Linked DNA regions of Homo sapiens: regions 1 and 2 are each linked to region 3. The links come from fine-mapping of genetic effects on gene expression. A gene starts in region 3. Each other region holds a variant in brackets. All regions are shown on one strand. Distances are from middle to middle. Region 1 overlaps LMAN2L (lectin, mannose binding 2 like). Region 2 overlaps LMAN2L (lectin, mannose binding 2 like). Region 3 holds the start of CNNM4 (cyclin and CBS domain divalent metal cation transport mediator 4).

The links. PIP is the estimated chance that this variant, and not a neighbour inherited with it, causes the effect.
Region 1: its variant is the best candidate, but not a certain one, in a credible set for the expression of CNNM4 in whole blood (TOPMed, PIP 0.59).
Region 2: its variant is the best candidate, but not a certain one, in a credible set for the expression of CNNM4 in whole blood (TOPMed, PIP 0.67).

Annotation. Positions count from the first base shown.
Region 1 is chr2:96,735,269-96,738,029 of GRCh38, reverse strand. LMAN2L (lectin, mannose binding 2 like) reads left to right here. Exons shown (of 8, transcript NM_030805.4): 2 at 1-81. Among named protein-coding and RNA genes, the nearest start is that of LMAN2L, 3.4 kb to the left of the region's middle. The variant C/G (reference allele first, on the strand shown) is at 1,557.
Region 2 is chr2:96,719,733-96,722,493 of GRCh38, reverse strand. All of the region lies in intron 4 of LMAN2L (lectin, mannose binding 2 like), which reads left to right. Among named protein-coding and RNA genes, the nearest start is that of LMAN2L, 19 kb to the left of the region's middle. The variant G/T (reference allele first, on the strand shown) is at 1,405.
Region 3 is chr2:96,759,310-96,762,070 of GRCh38, reverse strand. It overlaps CNNM4 (cyclin and CBS domain divalent metal cation transport mediator 4), which reads right to left and starts at 1,169. Exons shown (of 7, transcript NM_020184.4): 1 at 1-1,169. The coding sequence starts at 1,071. RefSeq lists enhancers at 1-532, 412-661, 533-1,122, 1,682-1,731 and silencers at 625-808, 932-1,351.

The sequences.
Region 1 (2,761 bases), 24 kb after region 3:
GGCAATGCCATGGTGATGACCCAGTATATCCGCCTTACCCCAGATATGCAAAGTAAACAGGGTGCCTTGTGGAACCGGGTGGTAAGAATCTTTCTCCCTCCTGTGTTGGTGACCCAGAAAGGCCTAAAAAGTTCAGCAGTGGCATACTGATTTAATTTTACTGTCTATCCCCCTGGTATTCTATCTTCTGTGGATATCAAGGATCTTTATTTTTGAGATTATTCTGACCTTGATAATAAATAAATCAGGTATTTAGGAAAATGCTCTCTATTTAATTATAGCAAATAATTCATTTTTTTTTCCTGAAATGTCGTTAATTCCTGATTGGCCCAATAGTACTACTTCTTAGGGTTTAATAATAACTTAACTCCTGCTTAACCACTTTGTAAGAAGATTATAAGAAGACCAGAGTGCAGTGGCACAATCATAGCTCACTGCAGCCTCAAACTCCTGGGCTTAAGGGCTCCTCCTGCCTCAGCCTCCTGAGTAGCTGAGACTACAGGCATGTGCCACTGCACCTGGCTAATTTTTAAAACGTTTTTTGTAGAGATGGGGTCTTGCTATGTTGCCCAGGCTGGTCTCAAACTCTTGGTCTCAAACAATCCTCCTGCCTTGGCCTCCCAAAGGTCAGGGATTATAGGTGTGAGCCACCGGTCCTGGTTGAGAGTACTCTTAAATTGATCCCAAACCTTATCCCAGCATCCCCATCTTGTTATTTCAATTTGAAGAGTCTGATATAAAATTTTATTTTCATGTGAAAGCCACTCTGAGCTGTTGGTCATTTTATTTGTCCTTCTCTGGACCTTTTCTAGCTGCATTGTCTTCCTTGAGGTATGGCGACAAGAAGTGAATGCAGTATTCCTGGTGTGGCTGCACTGTGATTTTGTACAAGTGTAAGATGATGCTTTCTTTTCTGTTTCCAGGGCTTTCTAAATCTTTTACGACCAGTTTACTTTTGGGCATGACTCTGGCATCCTTTGATACTTTCTCTGGAATTCTCTTAAACTAAGAACTTACTTTTTTACGTGGCTTTTCTCATTAGTTGTAGATAAGCGAATCTCAGAAAAGAGAACGATTTCTTTTCCCTGTTCAGGAGGGCAAGAGAAATTTCTACATTAGCTATCTGCACAAACTGGCCCCTTAACCTAGATCATAGTGCCGAGCTCATTTTTGGACAGAGTACAGAGCATTGTGTTTTCGTAGCAGAGATAAAGGACAGTTGAAAGACTGGGATTCTCGGTCCAGCTCTGTCACAGTCCTCCTGTGAGCCCTAGGCAGATTATTTAACTTCTTAGTTCTGTTTCTCTATCTGATAAATGAGCTTCAGAATACCTGTTTTACTTGCCCACTGGGGTTGTCGTGAGAATAAAATAGGACAATAGACATGAAAAGACTGTGGCAAGTTAAAATGGTTATAGAAATATGTGTTATGTTATTACACTTCTACAGGTTTGTTGATGGGGCTCTTGTGGGTTACCGGATGATTATGTTCAAGGCTTGATACTCTGCTGCTGTCTTGCTGGCTGTCTGTCTCTACATAACTTGTAGCAGCAGTT[C/G]TAGTATAGCCTCTAGTTCTTCCCTTTTTCGACTTCTGATACCTGTATTCGCTGTTATCTGGCTATCACCATGACTATGGGCTTGTTTCTGAGTTATTTGAATAGGATGCATTTGTTTCAGCAGTGGTTCTCAAATTTGGCTATCCATTGGAATCAATGCCTGGGTCTCATCCCCAGAGATTCTGATCTAATTGGAATAGGGTGCAGCTTGGCCATTGGGATTTTTTAAAACTCCGTAGGTGAATCCAGTGTGTGGCAGAATTTCAGAACCACAATTAGACATGGTCCTGAGCAAAACAGTATAGCATTGTGCTGTAGGAGGCCAGGAATCAGTGACAGACACCTCTTGGCTCACTGGGAACTTCTGTGACTCTGCCCTCTTCCCAGGGGCATAATACCTACCTCCTGGCAGCTTCCTGCCCCACTGAATTTCACTCTTTCTCTGAAAGCTATTTTTTTGAAACAGGGTCTCATCACTCTGTCGCCTAGGCTGGAGTGCAGTGGCACTATCACAGCTCACTGCAGCCTGGACCTCCTGGGCTCAAATGATCCTCCACCAAAGCCTCTCAAAATGCTTTGATTACTGGCGTGAACTACTGTGCCTGGCCTTTCTCTGAAATCTTTTTTTTTTTTTTTGAGATGGAGTCTCGCTCTGTCGCCCAGGCTGGAGTGTAGTGGCATGATCTCAGCTCACTGCAAGCTCTGCCTCCTGGGTTCACGCCATTCTCCTGCCTCAGCCTCCTGAGTAGCTAGGACTCCAGGCGCCCACCACCACACCGGCTAATTTTTTGTATTTTTTAGTAGAGACGGGGTTTCACCGTGTTAGCCAGGATGGTCTCGATCTCCTGACCTTGTGATCTGCCCACCTCAGCCTCCCAAAGTGCTGGGATTACAGGCGTGAGCCACCGCGCTGGGCCGTTTCTCTGAAATCGTAATGAAACAGCAGAGAGATAAGAATCCAGAGTGACAAGACAGAGACTGGCTCAATAGAGTAGGAGATTTCAGGCCCCTTGCTCAATGCAGGAGTACCCAATCCCCTTTCATTTTGACTGTGTACTTCTAATATGAACACTGTTGGAAAATATCCCAGAAATAAAGAATGAAAACTGAAAATGATCTAGCAATAGTTGCCCAGAACAGTCTATTTGGAGAGCCTTTGGCTGAACCCAGCTGGTCTGTCTGTTCTTCCTTCACTTCTTTCTTCA
Region 2 (2,761 bases), 40 kb after region 3:
ATAGGAGCAGGAGCCCTCTTATGAACTGAGCATGCGAGGGATCTAGTTTTCTCCTTAGGAGAATTTAATGCCTGATGATCTGTCACTGTCTCCCATCACCCCCAGATGGGACTATCTAGTTGCAGGAAAACAAGCTTAGGGTTCCCGCTGATTTCTACATCATGGTGAGCTGTATAATTATTTCATTATATATTATAACGTGATAATAATAGAAATAAAGTACACAGGCCGGGTGCGGTGGCTCACGCCTGTAATCCCAACACTTTGGGAGGCCAAGGTGGGCGGATCACGAGGTCAGGAGATTGAGGCCATTCTGGCTAACACGATGAAACCCCGTCTCTACTAAAAATACAAAAAAATTAGCCGGGCGTGGTGGCGGCCACCTATGGTCCCAGCTACTCGGGAGGCTGAGGCAGGAGAATGGCGTGAACCTGGCAGGCGGAGCTTGCAGTGAGCCAAGATCGCGCCACTGGATTCCAGCCTGGGCAACAGAGTGAGACTCCGTCTCAAAAAAAAAAGAAAGAAAGTACACAATAAATGTAATGTGCTTGAATCATCCCGAAACCACCCCCCCTCCAACTCCCCGGTTCATGGAAAAATTGTCTTCCAGGAAACCAGTCCCTGGTGCCAAAAAGGTTGAGGACTACTGGATTAGAGGATAAACAAAATGTGATATATTGTTATAATGGAAATATCAGCAATGAAAATAAGTATCACTGGGTGTGGTGGCTCGTGCCTATAATCCCAACACTTTGGGAGGCCAAGGTGGAAGGATTGCTTGAGTCTAGGAGTTTTAGATCAGCTTGGGCAACATAGGGAGACCCCATCTTTACAAAAAACAAAAAAAATTAGCTGGTCCCAGCTACTTTGCAGGCTGAGGCAGGAGGATTGCTTGAGTCCAGGAGGTCAAGGCTGTAGTGAGCTATGATTGCCACTGCACTGTAGCCTGGGCGATGGAGCAAGACTGTCTCAAAAAAAAAACAAAGTAGGAGTAATTGCCAGGCACAGTGGCTTACACTTGTAATTCTAGCACTTTAGGAGACCAAGGTGAGTGGATCACTTGAGCCCAGGACCTCGAGGTTGCAATGAGCCTTGATCACACCACTGCACTCCAGCCTGGGTGACATAGCAAGACCCTGTCTCAAAAAAAAAAAAAAAAAAAAAAAAGACTGAAAGAAATTAAGTATCGATATGTGCTCCAACATGGATGACCCATGAAAACACTATGCTAAGTGGAAGAAGCCAGTCACAAAAGACCCACACATTGTATGATCCCATGCATATGAAATGTCCAGAATAGGCAAATCTGTAGAGACAGAAAGTAGATTAGTGGTTGTCTAGGGCTGGGGTAATGTGGGGTGGAGATGAGGAGAGTGACTACTAGTGGGCATGAGATTTTTTTTT[G/T]GGGTGATGAAAATGTTTTAAAATTGGTTGTGGTAATCATAATCTTAACTCTGAATATACTAAATGCCATTGAATTATATACTTTAAGTGAATTGTGTGGACTGTGAATTATATCTCAGTGTTGTAGTTATTTATTTTATTTATTTTTTTTGAGACTGAGTCTCACCCTGTCGCCCAGGTTGGAGTGCAGTGGCGTGATCTTGGCTCACTGCAACGTCCATCTCCCAGGTTCAAGTGATTCTCCTGCCTCAGCATTCCGAGTAGCTGGGATTACAGGTGCCTGCCACCACGCCTGGCTAATTTTTGTATTTTTAGTAGAGACGAGGTTTCACCATGTTGCCCAGGCTGGTCTCGAACTCCTGACCTTGTGATTTGCCCGCCTCAGCCTCCCAAAGCACTGGGATTACAGGCGTGAGTCACCGCGCCTGGCTGTATTGTAGTTATTTTTTAATGTTGATTAAAAGATCACCAGTGGGCAGGCACAGTAGCTCGTGCCTATAATCCCAGCACTTTGGGAAGCCAAGGCAGGAAGATAGCTTGAGTCCAGGAGTTTGAAACCAGCCTAGGCAACATAGCAAGTCCTCATCTCTACAAAAAATCAAAAAAAAAAAAAAGGTAAAGATAACCTGATTATCTTGCACTATCAAGTCATCAGCTGATGATCATCACTTTCTCACACAAACCTACCCAGATGTTGGTGAAAAGTTGCAGGGAAGTCAGTAGCAATCTTGGAGCTACAATGTGCTTCCGTTGAAATCAGAGCGTAATGAATGAGAAGAGGCCTTCCTGGAATGAGAGCACAGAGTGTAACCGTTGCGGTCTTGGCCTTCATTCTTTTCTGTGAGATGTTTGGGCCTCACCCCTGGGGAGGCAGAAATAGCTAGAGAGTGGGGAGAAGAGCTTGGGAGTTGTTTTTGAGGTATTCCCCATACTTTGAGATACTCCTCATACTTTTTTTTGATGTGATGATTGTTTTTTCCTCCTTTGAACTGGAAGAAAATTTAACAATACCATGCCATCCAGTTAAAAAAACATTTCCTCAAGTCTTTTTTTTTTCTTTTGAGACTGAGTCTTGCATTCTATCGCCCAGGATGGAGTGCAGTGGCACAGTGATAGCTCACTGCAGCCTCGAACTCCTAGGCTTAAGCAGTCTTCCTGCCTCAGCCTTCTGAATAACTGGGACTACAGGTGGCCATCATGCCAGGTTAATTTTTACTTTTTTTGGCCAGGTGCAGTGGCCAATGCCTATAATCCCAGCACTTGAGGTCAGGAGTTCGAGACCAGCCTGGCCAACATGGTGAAACCCTGTCTCTAATAAGAATACAACAATTAGCTGGGATATGGCGCATGCCTATAA
Region 3 (2,761 bases):
CTCTTTCACGAGGTCATTATAGGGCTCCGTCACCTTCAACATCTCCATCAGCTTCTCCCGGTTGTAAACAGTGCGAATCTCCTGGCCCAGAAAAAAGTCCAGGAGCTTGCTAATGGGAAAACTGAGGGGGAAGGTGAGTAGCATAAAGAATTTGGTGAGAAGGATGGTGTTGGCACCCACAGCCAGCCCATGTCGGGAGCACAGGGCCTGAGGTAGGATCTCCCCAAAGATGACAATGCCAATGGTGGAGGAGGCCACCGCCATGAGGCCGGACCCGATGAGGTTGTCTAGAAGGATTGTGAGGGAGGTGTTGACCAGCACGTTCCCTAGGAGCAACGAGCAGAGAAGGTAGTTGCCCTTGCGCCGGATGGGCTCAATCTTGCGGGCATAGCGCCTCTCCTTCTCGGTGCCACAGTTCTGCACGATGCGCAGCTCCATGGGGTCCAGGGCCATAAGCCCGAGGTTGAGGCCAGAAAATATGCCCGACAGCACCAGCAGCACCGTAATTAGGAGAATGTGCAGCCAGAGAGGCAGGAACCTCCCAGGCTCCTCCACCATGAAGAGCAGTGAGTCCTTGTCCGTCCACTTCAGCCAGGGCCCGTCGGGCTGGGCCCGGGTGCACAGTGCATACAGCTTCATGCTCTCGCTCCTCCGGAGGAACTTGGTGAGCACCACCAGCACGCCGGACGTGTTCCCGCGGCTCACGTTGACCAGCTGCTGGACGACCAGGTCCTTGGTGAGCTCGAGGCAGCTGGTGGACTTGTGGAGGGTCTCGGCATCGTCCACCTCGGTGAAGGAGATCAGGTTGCTGGAGATGTTGCCCAGGCTGTAGCCGTACAGCCTCAGGTTCACGGTGCTGCCCTCGGACACGAAGATGATGCCATCCGGGTTCGTCCCACACGACTTGTTGCAGCTCGCCAGCCTCATGCCCACGATCGTGCCCTGCTGGGGGCTGCCCTGGCCCCGGGCCCCCAGCGCCCACAGCAGCACCAGCAGCACCGGCGCCGCCAGGAGGAGGCGCCCGCGGGCCGGTCCGCCGACCGGGCGCCCGCCCCCGCCCACCGGCGCCATGTTGCTCTGGCTCTGCCGCCGCCGCCGCTCCCCGCGCCACGCCGCGCGGCCCCGGTCCGCACCGCAGCTCCGGCCGCTCCGCTGCCGCCGAGCCAACTGCCCGGGCCGCGAGCCTGACGTCAGGTCAGCGCCCCGCCCGCCCCGCCCCGCCTGCCCACGCCCCTCATTTGCATTGGAGGCCCCGCCCCCGGGGCTCGCTGCTTGAGCGCCCGCCCTTAAGGGGGTACAGTCGCTTAAGGTGGAGCAGCGCCGCCGCGCGAGAGCCGCCAGCGGGTACCCGCCCAGTGCTCCGCCTCCGCGCCCTTCCCCGCCTTTCTCTGCCAGTGGGGCCAGCTCTCCTTCTCCGGGACCTGGTCTCCTAGCTACGCCGTTCCTGTTCCTCGGCCTCGCACGGCCGCACGTGGGAGGCTCCTCTCCCGTCCCTCACCTGCAGCTAGGGGTGGCCCGCTCTGCAGGCAGGGCGAGAAAAGTGCTTTTCCTGATGTAGAAAAAGAAAAAGGAAACCTGAGGGCTTAGGCTGGCATTGCAGCCTGCCCCTTGGAGACTTTTCTGGCCTCCTCACTGCTGAGATTTTTGCCGACCTTGTCCTAAGGCCAGAAGTAGGTTACCCCAGCCCCAGCCCCAGCCCGACGATGCTTCCATCAACCAGTGGCTGCCTGATGTGGAAGGCAAATCTGGGGAACTAAGGTTATAGAAGGGGCAGGCTCTGGCCTAGACTTCTCTCCTGTCTCTTCCATTTAGGCATAGATATTTATTGAACACCTACTTTGTACCAGGCACTTGTTCTAGGCTCTGACAATAGAGCAGTGAACAAGCCAAAGTCGCTGCCCATTGGGGTTTACAGTCTAGAACAGAAAACAGGAGATAAACAAGTAAACACATATATTCATTAAATCCCCCCAACAACCCTCAGAGTTAGTAGAATTATTTCCATTTAGAGATGCAGAAATTGAGCCGAGACAAAAATCCTGGTGCCTCCATACTGTCATCTCCCAGCCCATTTCTCCATCTGTAAATGGGGGTAAGAATGACAGAGCATTACTTCGCTAAGCTTGCGGGATTGTGGACCTAGACATTGAACATGACAGGACAGCTCTTTAGAATATTCTTTGGCTAGGTAGTAGTTGTTGCTACCTGCCTTCCAGGACCAAACTCCTAACCCCAAATTGTGGTGATTGATCAGCTGGGCAGCTGCTTGTGGACATGAGCAGGCAGGCGCGGCAGTGGGCCTATCCCTGAAATGACTGCTTCCTGAATGGCCCTAGCCCTGTGTCAGTAGGGTGTATAAGGAAGACCACAGCTGCCCGCCCTGTGAGGGGGAAGAAGACAGACAGATAAACATCCTTACAATAATTGCACAGGTGCACAGAGAAGATCAGGTACTGGGTTGACCACCAGGTCTCACAGCAAATCTTTTGCCAGTACTGAAGACACAGAACCCACTTTACTCCCTTCCCGCACTGACACTTGTATTTATTTTCATTTTGGTGTAATGTTTGCTAATAAAAGCAGCAATCAGTACCAAACGGAAGGAGCCTAAACAGAAAGGATCACACAATGTTGTGGGAGGAGGTGTGGTAGCAGAGAGGCCCTGACTCAAGAAAGCCCTGTTAGCTGGGATTGAGGGTTCTGTAAACTAGGCCAGCCTGGAGAAGTATGTTGCTAGTAGGGGCCCCACTCATAGCGGATA